Linked DNA regions of Homo sapiens: region 2 is linked to region 1. The links come from fine-mapping of genetic effects on gene expression. Tissue or cell type: monocytes after LPS. Region 1 holds a variant in brackets; the other region holds the start of a gene. All regions are shown on one strand. Distances are from middle to middle.

What was found. PIP is the estimated chance that this variant, and not a neighbour inherited with it, causes the effect.
Region 2: it holds the start of SERPINE2, and the variant in region 1 is fine-mapped to the expression of SERPINE2 in monocytes after LPS (Quach 2016, PIP 0.95).

Annotation. Positions count from the first base shown.
Region 1 is chr2:224,083,553-224,091,737 of GRCh38, reverse strand. No RefSeq gene overlaps it. Among named protein-coding and RNA genes, the nearest start is that of SERPINE2, 48 kb to the right of the region's middle. The variant G/A (reference allele first, on the strand shown) is at 4,889.
Region 2 is chr2:224,036,103-224,044,287 of GRCh38, reverse strand. SERPINE2 (serpin family E member 2) reads left to right here and starts at 5,002. Exons shown (of 9, transcript NM_001136528.2): 1 at 5,002-5,189. LOC124907991 (a long non-coding RNA gene) reads right to left here and starts at 4,886. Exons shown (of 2, transcript XR_007088103.1): 1 at 4,746-4,886; 2 at 1,796-2,570. RefSeq lists a silencer at 4,542-4,836.

The sequences.
Region 1 (8,185 bases):
TTTTCTTTATCCCACCTCTCCCAAATCAGTTAGCGTTCAGGCTCTTTTTCATCAAATATAAAACCCAGCCCAGTTCATGGCTCATTTGGCAGCAACCCGGAGATGCTTTACAGCCCTAGACCCTAAAAGGTCAAAAGGCCATCTTATTCTCAATATACGTTTTATTACCCAATTTGCTCCCGACATTAAATAAAACTCCAAAGATTAAATTCCAGCCCTCAAACCCCACAACAGCACTTAATTAACCTCGCTTTCAAGGTGTAAGATAATAGAGTAGAGGCAGCCAAGTAGCAACATATTTCTAGGTTGCAATTCCTTGCCTCCACTGTGAGACAAACCCCAGCCACATCTCCAGCACACAAGAACTCCAAACACCTGAACCACAGCTGCCAGGGGTTCCCCCAAAATCTCTTCCCCCGGGAGCTTGCTACAAGTGCTGGAAATCTGGCCACTGGGCCAAGGAATGCCCGCAGCCCAGAATTCCTCCTAAGCCATGTCCCATCTGTGCGGGACCCCACTGAAAACCAGACTGTTCAACTCACCTGGCAGCCACTTCCAGAGTCCCTGGAACTCTGGCCCAAGGCTCTCTGACTGACTCCTTCCCAGGTCTTCTCAGCTTAGCAGCTGAAGACTGATGCTGCCCGATCGCCTCAGAAGCCCTGTAGACCATCACAGATGCCGAGCTTTGGGTAACTCTCACAGTGGAGGGTAAGTCCACACCCTTCTTAATCAATACAGAGGCTACCGAATCCACATTACCTTCTTTTCAAGGGCCTGTTTCCTTTGCCTCCATAACTGTTGTGGGTATTGACAGCCAGGCTTCTAAACCTCTTAAAACTCCCCAATTCTGGTGCCAACTTAGACAATACTCTTTTAAGCACTCCTTTTAGTTATCCCCACCTGCCCAGTTCCCTTATTAGGTTGAGACATTTTAACTAAATTATCTGCTTCCCTGACTATTCCTCGACTACAGCTACATCTCATTGCCGCCGTTTCCTCCAGTTCAGAGCCTTCTTCACATCCTTCCCTTGTATCCCCTAACCTTAACCCACAAGTATAGGACACCTCCATTCCCTCCCTAGCAACCGATCACATGCCCTCACCATCCCATTAAAACCTAATCACCCTTACCCCGCTCAACGCCAATATCCCATCCCACAGTACGCTTTAAAAGGATTGAAGTCTGTTATCACTCACCCGCTACAGCATGGCCTTTTAAAGCCTATAAACTCTCCTTACAATTCCCCCATTTTACCTGTCCTAAAACCAGACAAGCCTTACAGGTTAGTTCAGGATCTACACATTATCAACCAAATTTTCTTGCCTATCTACCCCATGGTGCCAAAGCCATATACTCTCCTATCCTCAATACCTCCCTCCACAACCCATTATTCTGTTCTGGATCTCATGCTTTCTTTACTATTCCTTTGCACCCTTCATCCCAGCCTCTCTTCACTTTCACTTAGACTGACCCTGACACTCATCAGGCTCAGCAAATTACCTGGACTGTACTGCTGCAAGGCTTCACAGACAGCCCCCATTACTTCAGTCAAGCCCAAATTTCTTCCTCATCCATTACCTATCTCAGCATAATTCTTCGTGAAAACACACGTGCTCTCCCTGCTGATCACATCTGGCTAATCTCCAAAACCCCAATTCCTTCTACAAAACAACAACTCCTTTCCTTCCTAGGCATGGTTAGGTACTTCCGCCTTTGGATACTTAGTTTTACCATCCTGACTAAACCATTATATAAACTCACAAAAGCAAACCTAGTTGACCCCACAGATCCTAAATCCTTTCCCTACTCCTTTCCGTTCCTTAAAAACAGACCTAGAAGCTGCTCCCACACTGGCTTTCCATAACTCATCCCAACCCTTTTTCATCACACACAGCCAAAGTGCAGGGCTGTGCGGTTGGAGTTCTTACACAAAAGCCGGGACCACGCCCTGGAGCCTTTCTGTCCAAACAACTTGACCTTACTGTTTTAGCCTAGCCCTCATGTCTGCGTGCGGTGGTTGCCACTGCTTTAATACTTTTAGAGGCCCTCAAATTCACAAACTATGCTCAACTCACTCTCTACAGTTCTCATAACTTCCAAAATCTATTTTCTTCCTCCCACCTGACACATATACTTTCTGCTGCCTGGCTCCTTCAGCTATACTCACTCTTTGTTGAGTCTCCCACAATTACCATTGTCCCTGGCCCAGACTTCAATCTGGCCTCCCACATTATTCCGGATACCACACCTGAACCCCATGACTGTATCTCTCTGATCCACCTGACATTCACTCCATTTCCCCATATTTCCTTCTTTCCTGTTCCTCATCCTGATCACACCTGGTTTATTGATGGCAGTTCCACCAGGCTTAATCGCTGCCACTCACCAGCAAAGGTAGGCCATGCTATAGTATCTTCCACATCTGGCTACCACTCTGCCCCCCTCCACCACCTCTCAGCAAGCCAAACTCATTGCCTTAACTCGGGCCCTCACTCTTGCAAAGGTACTACATGTCAATATTTATACTGACTCTAAATATGCCTTCCATATCCTGCACCACCATGCTGTTATACGGGCTGAAAGAAGTTTTCTCACTACACAAGGGTCCTCCATCATTAACGCCTCTTTAATAAAAACTCTTCTCAAAACTGCTTTACTTCCAAAGGAAGCTGGAGTCATTGACAGCAAGGGCCATCAAAAGGCATCAGATCCCATCACTTAGGACAACACTTATGCTGATAAGGTAGCTAAAAAAGCAGCCATCAAAAGGCTGATCCCATTGCTCAGGACAATGCTTATGCTGATAAGGTAACTAAAAAAGCAGCTGGCGTTCCAACTTCTATCCCTCACGGCAGTTTTTCTCCTTCTCATCTGGCCACTCCCACCTACTCCCACTAAAACTTCCACCTATCAATCTCTCCCACCCAAGGCAAATGGTTCTTGGACCAAGGAAAATATCTCCTTCCAGCCTCACAGGCCCATTCTATTCTGTCATCATTTCATAACCTCTTCCATGTAGGTTACAAGCTGCTAGCCCATCTCTTAGAACCTCTCATTTCCTTTCCATCATGAGAATCTATCCTTAAGGAAATCACTTCTCAGTATTCCATCTGCTATTCTACTAATCCTCAGGGATTTCTCAGGACCCCTCCCTTCCCTACACATCAAGCTCAGGGATTTGCCCCTGTCCAGGACTGGCAAATTGACTTTACTCACATGCCCCAAGTCAGGAAACTAAAATACCTCTTGGTCTGGGTAGACACTTTCACTGGATGGGTAGAGGCCTTTCCTACATGGTCTGAAAAGGCCACCACGGTCATTTCTTCCCTTCTGTCAGACATAATTCCTCGGTTTGGCCTTCCCACCTCTATACAGTCCAATAACAGACTGGCCTTTATTAGTCAAATCACCCAAGCAGTTTCTCAGGCTCTTGGTATTCAGTGGAAACTTCATACCCCTTATGCCTCAATCTTCAGGAAAGGTAGAACACACTAATGGTCTTTTAGAAACACACCTCACTAAGCTCAGCCTCCAACTTAAAAAGGAGGACTCTGTCAAGGATACAGCCCAAAAACTTGCCAACCATGCAAGTAATTAGGCTGAACCCCCTTATGCACTCTCTAATTGGATGTTCTGGGCCCTCCCAATTCTTAGTCCTTTAATACCTGTTTTTCTCCTTCTCTTATTCGGACCTTGTGTCTTCTGTTTAGTCTCTCAATTCATACAAAACTGCATCCAGGCCATCACCAATCATTCTGTATGACAAATGCTCCTTTTAACAACCCCACAATATCGCCCCTTACCACACAATCTTCCTTCAGCTTAATCTCTCCCACTCTAGGTTCACACGTTGCCCCAATCCCGCTTGAAGCAGCCCTGAGAAACATCGCCCATTATCTCTCCATACGACCCCCCAAAATTTTCGCTGCCCCAACACTTTACCACTATTTCGTTTTATTTTTCTTATTAATATAAGAAGACAGGAATGTCAGGCCTCTGAGACCAAGCTAAGCCATCATATCTCCTGTGACCTGCACGTATACATCCAGATGGCCTGAAGTAACTGAAGAATCACAAAAGAAGTGAAAATTGCCAGTCCCTGCCTTAACTGATGACATTACCTTATGAAATTCCTTCTCCTGGCTCATCCTGGCTCAAAAGCTCCCCCACTGAGCACCTTGTGACCCCCACCGCTGCCTGCCAGAGAACAACCCCCTTTGACTATAATTTTCCACTACCCACCCAAATCTTATAAAATGTCCCCACCCCATCTCCCTTCACTGACTCTCTTTTCAGACTCAGCCTGCCTGCACCCAGGTGATTAAAAAGCTTTATTGCTCACACAAAGCCTGTTTGGTGGTCTCTTCACATGGACGCGAGTGAAAAATAATGCCCCAGAAGTAGGGCTCCTCTAGATTTCTCTGAACTAACAAACAAATCAATAATGATCAGGCTGGTTTGGATGATAAATATATTTCCTTCTCTGCTAATTTCATAGGAATGGCAAATCCACATATTGTTTGTAAGATAAAGCTCATGGATTATAATCTTGAATCCTAAATCCTGACGCTGATATGCTGTTTCCTCTGCTCCCTGATCCTATGAGGTAGCAGAATGGCACAATTTCCTAGGATCACTCTAGCTGCTATTGCTGAAATCATGCCTACACTTTTAAGGCTAACACAGAGCACATAGTCAGCCCATGTAATAATTCAGCCCACAAATGAATCTTACTTGGATGATATAGTGTAATTTCTTTCTTTTGTTTTTAGGGGGCAGGTGGTCCCCAAATCGAAATGGTCCTTTGTACTCCTTATTGTGTTTTTCTCAATGTAGGCAACTGCCTGGTCCCTGAAGCCATATGAATTGCACATCTCCTAGTGAAAT[G/A]TAGCAATTTTACTAGAAGACGTGTGATAGTATTGGCTAATAGGCCCACTTAGTGTTACTAATAATTCTTTGTCTACTAGGCACACCCATGTAGAGCTGGCTTGGTCATCCTGACTCATGGGCTCATATTTCAAGCTTACTCAGACAGTTAATTGTCAGAGTGTTTGATTCCAAAAACCACATGCTAAATTTCACTGAGTTATGGCACTTTGGTATTTCCTAAGTTATGGCATTTTGGTATTTTGCTGTTAAAATGCTGGAAACAATATGCCTGAAATTTTCCCCTAGTAGAATATTTAATTTTTTAATTTAGCATTTTTATATTTTAAGCTGGCCCAATAAACCCCAGAACAGAGTTTAAAATGTACCCAGAAGCTTGAGTTTACGAGGCAGAACAAATACCAATCAGACTTACAAGTCTTTCTCGCATGGAAAACTTGACCTACTCATGTTGAGTGAGTGTTCCACAGAAGAAGCTTTCCTTAGCCAAACATTCTGGGAAAACTCTCTGATAAGTATAGGTAAATAACCTTTTTTGTTGGTCTTTAGTATGCTCCAAGAAGAGCTACAGTACATGCTACTTCCCAAATACATTTGTCTAGTAAAGTCTTTTTGTACAAAATATAGTCTTGTACAAAATATAAAGTCTTTTGTACAAAATATCTGCTCACTAGTATTCGAAGGCACATGCTTTGAGAAAGGCTGATGGAAGCTGGTGAGCAGAATGCGTGACAAACACTTAATAAACACTTAATCCTGGTGCCTGAGCTACCCCTAAACAACAATCAGACCTTTTGAGCAAATCTCACAACTGCTATGAGTTACTCTTCATTCATTTAGAAAGTTAATAGGTTATATTCTCTTCCAGCTCAAATAGTTTCTGACTTGCCTCAGAGCTTCATAATATTATATTTGGTCACTTTCACTAAATGATTAATGGAGACAAAGAAAAAGAATACTACCGTATTAAACAGAATTCTAGGACTTTCCAGGGCAACCTGACTTTGCAGAACTACAATTAGTATTCCAAGGTAACATGGTAATAATTTCCTGAGACTCGTGGCATTTTCTCTAAGTGGTGTTTCAAGTCGTGAAGTGTTAAGATCACTAAAAAAGTCTGCTGTTGGCTGCTTTATTAATCCAAGATTTTTCAATGGAATCATCACCAGAACCCTTAGACAATCCCACTTGTAGTACAGAAACTGAGAGAGGCTAAAGAATTTCCTTATTCAGTTTCTTAACGTTGGTAGAAGTAGGTCTAAAGTTAGGACTCCCAGGGCTTCCAATTTATCTATATGGTTGGGTTTTCCTTCTTTACTGCAGTGAATGAGGATGGAAAAGGAGGTCACAGGTCCATCTCCTCTCCTTCTGAGTCTTCACTTCCTAGGGTTTATATCTAATGACTCATCTTCAGTATTAGCTTAAGTGGCCTGGCAACAACCAGAACACTGTTTTCAACAGCAATTTGTCTTTCAATGGCTCAGGAAGTGGGATCATTTTGTACAAGTCACAAATACAGCCCACCGAGCTCCCCAGTTTATGACTTTTCTTTTTAAACTTAAGATATAGGAAAAAAAATATTCACTTGTTTATCAACCTAAGGAAAAATAGGTTTTCTTGTTATGAATAAGAACAAAGAGTTGGCTGAAAATACCACTTCTAATTAGGTAATGAAGTTGTAATAAAGTACATTCAAAATGAAAATTAATTTCCATTAAGCAACTCACTCTCGGCACTGTTTGTTCTTATCACAGATACAAACATATGCTTTGACTTTTCTTCTGGATAATAATCTGTACTTGAAGAATGGAAAGTTTTCTGTTATATATTTGAGTCCAGAAAAGCTACCTAACTGTCCTACATGAGAAATGGCCAATGTTTGGTGGTGGATGGAAAGTATACATGAATTTATATCTAATTTTTCCAACAAGGTTTGGTGGAAATGAATATGTGAGTGTGTGTATGTGTGTGTGTGTGTGTGTGTGTGTGTGTGTGTCTACACAAAAGATGGAAACAACTCAAACTAGCACTTAAGCAAAAAAAAAAAAAAAAGTAATGTATTGGCTGGGAAATCTGAAATGTGTATCTGGTTTCAGTATGATAAGATCTGGGCCCCAGTTTGTGATTCCTGTACTCTCTTCTCCCTCTCTCTCCATATACCTCTGCTGGGTTTCAATCTTAGGCTCTCTCTCCGTCTATCACCAGCAAGATGTCTGCTCATAACCCCAAGACCACCTTGCCCTTATAACTCCTGGCCCTCAAAGAAGAGAGAGACTCTTTTTCTGCTTTCACAGATCGCATCGCAAGGCAGGGTTTTGGTGGGCCTGTTTGAGTCATGTGCTCATGGCTGAGCCAATTACCACAGTCAGAGTAATGGGCTACTCTGATTGGCCAGTCTTGGGTCATGTGTCCACCCTAGTGTCAGGGGAAAACAGGGCTCTTATCCTACCAACATGGAGGGAAGGACAGCTTTCCAAAGGAAGATAGGCTGGGAGCCACACACAAGAGACAGCTAGTCCAAAATACACAAACTTCCTGGCAATCACAGCACCAGAATGCTGAATATAACCTCCAAGTTCAGTTATTCTTCTCTTTCCTACACAAGGTCCTACTGAGGCACACAGCACATTTACAAACCTCTTCCCCCAACCGACTATTCCCCTTCTCTGAGGTATTTGCTAATTGGAGATGGAAACCCAGACACTCAAAAATGTAATAGAAACAGAAAGAGTAGTGAGACAAAGTTTCTAGAATTCAAAGAAAAGCAAAAAGCTTCTTTCTTTATTGGGAAATTGTGTTTTGCTTAGATTTCAGGAATTTTCTTTCTTTTTTTTTTTCTTTTTTCTTTTCTTGGCCTCTGGTTTGCAATAGTACAAAATAAGGATAAAGAAGAAAAATTAAACATAGCATTCTACTATCCTACTCAAATGTTCCCCAGCCTACTAGTCAACTGGTTGGAGAACTATAAAACATAGTTTATAGTCCATAGTTCATAGGTGGAGAACTATAAAACAAAGAGAAGAATAACTGAGCTTGGAGGTTACATGTTTGTTTATTTGCTACACACACACACACACACACACACACACCCTCACACATTCATTTCCACCAAACCTTGCTGGAAAACTTAGATGAGTGAGCACTGACTTCTGGAAAACATTTGCTGAAGACTCAGGTAGAATCTACGATTCACGATTTTTTTCTTTTTCTTTTTTTCCTTTCTTTTTTTTTTTTTTTTTTTGAGACAGAGTGTTGCTCTGTTGCCCAGGCTGGAGTGCAGTGGCACTGATCTCAGCT
Region 2 (8,185 bases), 47 kb after region 1:
TGAGATCATGCCACTGCACTCCAGCCTGGGTGACAAGAGTGACACTCTGTCTCAAAAAGAAAGGAAGGAAGGAAGGAGGGAAAAAGAAAGAAAGAGAAAGAAAGAAAGAAAGAAAGAAAGAAAGAAAGAAAGAAAGAAAGAAAGAAAGAAAGAAAGAAAAGAAAGAGGGAAAGAAAGAAAAAGGAAGGAAGGAAGGAAGGAAGGAAGGAAAGAAGAAAGAAAGAAAGAATTCATTCCCATCTTTGTGCTTTGGTGACTGAGATGGAAGTCATGTCTGTAAAACACATGGAACACAGGAGGAAGAACTGGTTGGGGGATGAAGATAATAAGTGGGTTTGACTTGTTAGGTGGGAGGTGATGGTGGGATATTAAGTGGAGGTGTCTGCCAGGCACTTGGAGATAGATGAGTGGTACCTTGGGATGGTGGCCAAGGCCATCTGTAGATATGGGCTTAGAATTCATCCAGAACTAAGCAAAGTTACAGACATTTAAGGTATGTCAGTTAGGCATCCTAGGTTGCTGGCAACAGAAACTGAATCTGGCTAACAAGTAGAAAAGTCTCACAGAAACAGAGTTCACTGTGGACCTCTGCTCAGACGGGACAGGGTCTATGGCAGCTCTGAGGTCCGGGTAGGAAGAACTCACAAATTCATCATTCATCAAGCTGAGATAAGTCAGCTGCAATTACTTTTTCATTCTTTTCAAGATTCAAAGAACTGGGAGGGAATCCAGTGAGCTTGGTCATATGCCCATCCCTTGGCTAGTGAAAGTAAGGATACCTTGATTTCCTTCCCAACAAAATGCTGCATAAAATAGAAGAGGTGTTTCCACTATCAAAAGGTGAGGAGGGGAACAAGTGTTGGTGGCCACAGATAAATCAATGTTCGTTCCACTGGGAGAGAGTGTGGAGAAAAGAGGAGGGAGCTGAGGACAGTCAACTGCATGGTGCCCACCTGTTGGAAGATTTGATGGAAAAAGGATAAAGGCAAGTTAAGGCATAGGAAGAGAGAAAATAGGCAAAGGAGTTTCCAAAAAATGGGCACACATATGAGAGTGAAATCCTGCCAAGGACTCAAAGGTGATAAAGAATGTTGAAAAACTACTGGGGTTGCCATTGGAAGCTATTGGTAACATTTGGGAGAGAAGGAGGGCCCGAGGAAGCGAGGAAGAAAAGGAGGGGAGCCCGATGATGGGGTAAGAAGATTGACCGAAGAGACCCATGGAAAAAGGGAGGCAGCATCTATTGTTTGGTGGTAAAAGGAAGGAGAGCAGCTGGGCTGTTGTTTGAAGGGGTCAGTATCACAACGACTCTCAGAACCTGGCTGTTACATCCTATTTGGTCACATATAAGTAGAAAATAATACCCAGCCCAGCACTTAGTAATGTCTTTTCTCTGAAGCTCTTGGTGAAAACTAGTGACGACAATAGCAAAGTGCAAACTGATGCTCTGGTTTAATCTGTTTCAGAAGTTACAGAAAGAGGAAATTGAATTTATTTGAAAGCCAACTTTAAAGGGAAATAAAAAGATAAATGTCTTTTCTAAGCTAAAAAAAAAAACCCCAAAGCAATGCAACAGTTTCAGAAACTAATTGTATAAGTGTACTGTTATTACCAGTCTCTTTTCCCCTGGTTGAAACAATCTTCCATAACAACATTTGCAACTATAATATTGCGTAACAAGCACTGTTACGGTGTAATGTCTTTTAAATAGGGGTTAGATAGGAGAGAAGTGAGTATCCATTATCTTATTATCATAACATCCGTCAGTCTTCCAGACAAAACACCATCATCCCACTGGGAGCTAAGGACGGTTTTTACTTAAACACAAGGTCATACTGTTTGGGTGCATGGGAGAGCAGTGGAGGTGGGGTGGGGGATTTTCATTTATTCCAAGGCACTCAACGCTGGACTTCTTCCAAGAGAGGAAACAAGACTAAATAGATCATTTGTTTTATTCTGTTTGGGCAGTTCTTGCATTTCTCCCAACTGTGGCTTATGGACACAAAGCCAAACTCAGAGCCTAGCTGGAGCTGGCTAAACTCCAGGTCAAAGGAATAAACAATTTGAAGCTCTATTTGCGGATTAAGGCAAGCCACACAATTGCAGGACAAAATGAAATTTCACTGTGAATGTGAAGTCACAAAGAAACAGCAGGTAGAAGTGTTAAATGATTTGGATTTCTCAAACAAAACCGAGGTAGAGGTAGGAAGGAAATGTGGATTGGAAGTACACATCTATGAGAAATGCATCTCAAAAAGGGTCAAATATTGGAGAATACTGGAGGAGGAACCTGCTGCTTGTGGGGACCAACTGAGGTAGGAACACAACATCTTTGGAACAGCCCCTCACGGTGGGTGTCAAAGAGCCTGGCCATTTGAGTGTCATGGAAAGTGTAGCTTGGGTCATTACTTCTGTCTCCTCTTGCTGGCATCAGGAAGGCTGGCCAACACCAGCCATGCACACTCAGTAACAAGTATAGTTGGTATTCCCAGCATATCCCACTGGCAGAATGGGTCTTTGTCTTCAATCACTTTCCTTTGGGAGACCTCATCGTTGGCCTCATCGCATGTCTAGCGAGAGAGAAGGGAACATTAGTGTCTAGGCTTACTTTAGCATATTAGTTAGCACTGCATCCACTGTGATTTCAGAATTGACAAGTCACGTACAGTATTGCTCAAAATGTTCCTTCGACACTACAGGAAAGAATGGGGAAGTAAATGTCAGTCATTAAAGTGTAACCCAAAGAGGTAAGTCCTAAGGACTTCTAACGTCTTTCATAGATGAAGAATTTGGACCCTATTTACACTCTAATTGGGAAAGCAAAAAAGGCTTGTTGTTGTTTTTTCTTGAAAAACATTGGCTCCTTCAAGACAAGAGACTGAAACTCTTCAAAATAGTAATTTTGTGCATTTCTCTCACTGGTTTGAGTAACTTTAGTAAAAATTTAAAGTTACACATAATTAACCAAAGTGTGTGAGATAGGAATCAACGTATCAATGTTAATATCCTGATTGTGATATTATACAATGGTTTTGCAAAATGTTACCATGAGGAAGACTTGGCAAAGTGTAAAAGAGACCTCTCTGAATCATTTCTTAACAACTGCATGCCAGCCTACAATTACCTCTATTACAAATTTTAATTTAGAAATGTGATTGAGACAGAAATGGATGCAGGGATTCTGGCACATTTTCATAATAATCTGGCTTCACCCACATTTCCCAGTTATTTCTCCAGTAGTTTCTTGAATGACTCCCTTCCATCTGGAAGAGGATACTCCCAGCTTTTCAAACACACTGAACGAGCTCATTCACACCTGTGGGCTTTCCCCCCTCCTTTGAATTGTTCCCAGCTCCAGCCCACACCGCCCTGACTGGACCAAGCACAATACTGTCACTGAAACAGTTCTTAGCATGTCTAAAAGTCACTTGGCTAGTAGTTCATCCACTCGTCAACAAAATTTATTGAGTAACTGCTATATGTGTGGTATGGCTCTAGGCACTAGGGATAGAGTGAGTTGGAAACAATATTGAAATTAGTTTCTCTTCCCTGGTCTCTGGGAGTATATTCCAATGAGAGAGAGTAGAAGAAAACTAGCAAGAAACAAGGTAAAAAAAAAATCAATTCATGATGAGGGTTATGAAGGAAGTCATAGGTTAGAGGGGATAAAGTGACTTTATCTCAAGTGGTCAGGGGAGGCTTCCTAGGGGAGAGGACATTTGAGTTGTGACCTCAAGTGTAAGGATGCAGACAACATAGAAGATCCTGGGACAAAAAGCATTTCAGGCACAGAGAATAAGAAAGTTACCCTGTAACTGAATATAAATATTTGGTATGACTGTAAAATAATTAAACAGATGCTCATTTTTGTAGACTGTTTGCTCCTTATTTTAGGACCAAGCCTCCCATAGCCTGTTTCCCTCTATGAGAGACTGAGAACACCCTTAGGCTGGTCCAGATTTTACACTTTTCAGAGCAACCCCTTCCCCAACACACACGTGCACACTCTGGCACGGCCACCTGCATGCCAAGGGGTGACTGCAGGCTGATCTTCCAAGTGGCTCTCATCAGTAGCTGTACCCTTAATCCAGGGCTGTGTATAGGGAGATTTACATTTCTTCCTCGCTGTTGGGGCCGTCTGCCTGCTAGCGACGATTCTACACTAACGGCTACATAAATTACTGTCATTAAAGTTGGGTCCTTGGGTCCCCAGAAACCTAACTAGAGGCAAAGGAGGAACCAACTAAGAGAGGTCCAGGTAACAGAGCCCGGAGCGGGACGGTCATTTGTTGCAGGCCCCTGGGGTATGTGCCTGTCTATCGCGCACCGGGTCCCAGCAGCAGTGGTTACCGGCTGAGAAGGGCTGGGTTCCCAGGACGCTGCGGGTACCTCATGCTATCACCATAGCCGGGAATCCAGTTTTCTGGTTCCCCTCGTCTGTATTTGCCTAAGGCGACTTGCCGCCGTTCCTCTGTCCCCTAGGCAGGGAGAAGTCAGCTCTAGGACACCCTGCAAAACGCCTCGAGGGGTTATCTGCCCCTTCCCGGCCGCGTCCTGGCACCGTTTCCCCATCACCCGGAGGACTGAGCGCTGTCTCAGGGCGCCCTCTGTCTCTTCCAGGGGGCAGCCAAGACGACATGCCCTGCGTCTCAGGGACGCGGTACGAGCCCTGGTATTCCCCCCGCCACCTCACACACCCCCATCCGGGAGACCCACGTGCAGCTGGGCCCGGGCTGGCGCCGCACCTCGGGGTCTGCGCGTCTCCCCGGCGCGTTCCGGGCGCAGCCCCACGACACGGACCCCTGGCGGGGCGGCATCCGAGAAGTCGCAGGCGGAGAGGGGGCGTCCTGGAGGCCGGGCGCGGGGACGCTGCGGCCCGCGGCCACACAAAGGAGGCGGCGGGAAGGCGGGGCAAGGCGGGCCGGGGGCGGGGGCGGCAGGAAGGGGCGGGGGCCCGCGCGGCGCCGCCGATAAAGCCCCCGCCGCCGCGGCAGCCAGCTTGCGCTGTGGGGCTGCCCGGGCTGCGCGGCGTCTGCAGGCGCCACCGCTGCCTCTTTCCGGCTGTGACCCTCCTCGCCGCCGCCGCTTGGCTGCGTCCTCCGACTCCCCGCGCCGCCGAGACCAGGCTCCCGCTCCGGTTGCGGCCGCACCGCCCTCCGCGGCCGCCCCCTGGGGATCCAGCGAGCGCGGTGAGTACAGGCTGCGCGGTGAGTCCCGGGCGCGGCCGGCGCTGCCCTCGGCGGGGGACGCTCCCCGGGGCTCCGCGCGCCACCGGCCCTGCTCCCTGACCTTGCGCCCGGCCGGGAAGCTGCGGGGCCAGCGGGACCCTGGGGCGCCGACGTCGGGGAGCAGAGAACTTTCTCAGCCTCCCGCGGGCCGCCTTGGCCGGGGCTGGGTGCTCGCCGGGCATCCCGGTCCCGCCCGCCGGGAGCCCCGAGCGGGACCCGGGCAGGGCAAGGCGGGGCCGCCCCGGGGTGGCGTCCAGTGATACCCGCAGCTGGGAGCACCGGGGCCGGCGTGGCTCCTGCCCGGCCATCCGAGCCGGCCCTGACCCTGAACCTGAGGTTTCCAGCTGCTCGCCGGCAACCCCTACCCCGGACTTAGGCTGCGCGCCGCCGGATGGGGAGAGACTGGCGCACTCTTACTTGTTACCTCTGCCTGGGCAGAGGGAGGTGACGCGCGGTGTGGGGAAAGCCTTTAACTTGGCCTCTGGCAGCCGATTTAACCCGAGCGAGCAGGTCTTTGCTATTTTCATCATCTGTAGAAACGGGAGTTGCGAGGCGGATGAGTGACTGCAGGTAAAATGAAAGTACGGTACTCAGAAATTCTGGAAGGAATTAGGCATTTAATGTGTCCACAAACTGAGCGGGGAAGGAAGGCTTCTATTACATAAGACAGCACTCCACCTTCAGGTATTATGGAAGATGCTGTTGAAGGTTTTAGTGTTTTAATGAACGAAACACATTCTTTGTGTGTGTGTCTCTGGAGAAATCTCGAATGCTGCTGTCTTGCTTTGGCTACTTTGCAGGGGACGTTCTTATATTTAGCATCAGCATAAAAAGGTGTTCGAAGGTGTGACTTCCTCTTTCAAGCCAAGAAGCCGTTTATTTGTCTGAATTGTTGTGGAACAATATATGTGATAATTGTGTACTTTGAAGATTTTATATCAAAACTTGAGCACAGATAACTGGAAGAATTGTCAACATTGCTAATTTGTATATCCTAAACCACACTTCGAAAATTGAAGACAGTTTCAACACTATCTGAAGGTCTAAATCAGTACTTATTTGCTATTTGCAGTATTTCAATAGAAAAATTTTTGGCTATGCAAATGAAGGTACTAACCTGAGTAATCTAAGGTTTCTTTTAACCCCCAAATTTTGATTCTTTGTTAAAATAATGTTTGAAAATATCGTACCATGCAGGGCAATTACTGAAGGTCATGAAAATGTCATCGTATTTTATTCTAAAAACAAAAATGAATCTATGCAGAAAATTTCCGTGTCCCATGAACTTCATATTAGTTTAATTTTAAAAGTACTGTCTCCAAAAAAAGCTAATTTTCACTTCCACACAAGGGTGATTAAATACCAGTCAGAGATTGTTTGAGGTGGTAGAGTTGGAAATGAGGTGGTGACCTGGCCACGTCCCTGGGTGCATCTCAGCCTTGCTGTCCTCTTCCAGCCAGTTCTTTTCCCATCGCATGGGGACTTTGGCTCTTGGGCTATTTCTCCTCCTCTAGACCTAAAGTCCATGTGGGGGACGCTCTAGATGCGCACTTCCTTGACTGTCTCAAATCCAGTGTCTTCCATGTACTCCAGCTACCAAGTCCTCTAAGTACCTCCAAGTCTTGCCCTCTCTTGAGATGCTCAACTTCTGAAAACTCTTAGTGCCTCCAACCCGCAAGCTCCTTCCTTCCGGGTTGCAAACCGGACTCCCACTGTAATCTTCAATGCAAGCGATCTCCAATGCTTTTCCTCTTGCGGGTTTGGCAGGTGACTTTGTAGCCCATTCTACCAGGAGAATAGAGGTCATAAGTATCTCCTCACGTCCTCCCCCATCTCCCCTGTACAGACTTTTCTGTGTTTACCCAGTCATCCAATAAATCTTCTTAAGCATCTACTGTGTCTGGGTACTTTGTTGGATACTCATAGGTGGTAAATAGAGCAGATCCTTGCTCGCTTGAAACTGTCATTCTTGTGGGAGAAAACCAACTAAAAGCAAACATAATATGTTGTAAAATGTATGATAAATGAATAAGGTAGAATTATAAAGAAAAATCAAGTTAGACTGAGAACTTAGAGAAATATAGAGAGATGGCCTCCTTGGGGCAGTGACTAATGTCTCCAGCTGTGTCCTGAATCCCAACTCCCAGTGCCTCTCTCTCCTTGTGAGTGTTACTCCCTTTTCTTACTTTTATCTTCAGTCTCTCCCTGTGAGCTTTTTTCTTTTTTAGTAGTATTTTAAGAATGCCTTAACCTCCCTTGTCCCTGCATCCTCAGCTCACCTGTAGTGACAACCACGTCTCTCCAGGCTTCTTAAACTGGTCTGCCCTTCCTGTTCAGCTCTTTGCAAGCTGGCCAGAGTCTCCTCAAAGTTCAAGGCCTGTGACTTCCTGAACAAGCAATCTTTTTTTTTTTTTTTTAATTTTTATTAATATGCTTTAAGCTCTGGGGTACATGTGCAGAACGTGCAGGTTTGTTACATAGGTATACACGTGCCATGGTGGTTTGCTGCACCCATCAACCCATCACATTAGGTATTTCTCCTAATGCTATCCCTCCCCTACCTCACTCCCCGCCCCCCACCACAGGCCCCAGTGTGTGATGTTTCCCTCCCTGTGTCCCTGTGTTCTCATCTGAACAAGCAATCTTATGGATACCCACTAGGTTTCTCCGTGGCATTTGATGAGGTTCTTCTATTCCTTTCTGATGGTTTTTTTTTTTTTTTCCATCCCTGGTTGCCACCTTCTGGTTTTCCTTATTCCTCCCTGGCATCTCTGCTACCTCTTGGGGTTACCCAGGGTTCGCTGTCATCCCTTTTGTGCTCTGTGTATTTGGGTGAACCATGTTCCCACAGCTTCGACTCTCACCAATATGAAGCGAGTCCCAGATTGGCATGTTAAGCTAGCTTGAGCATGCTCCTGTGTTCCAATCAGTTACCTGCAGTCTGGTGCGCTTACCCG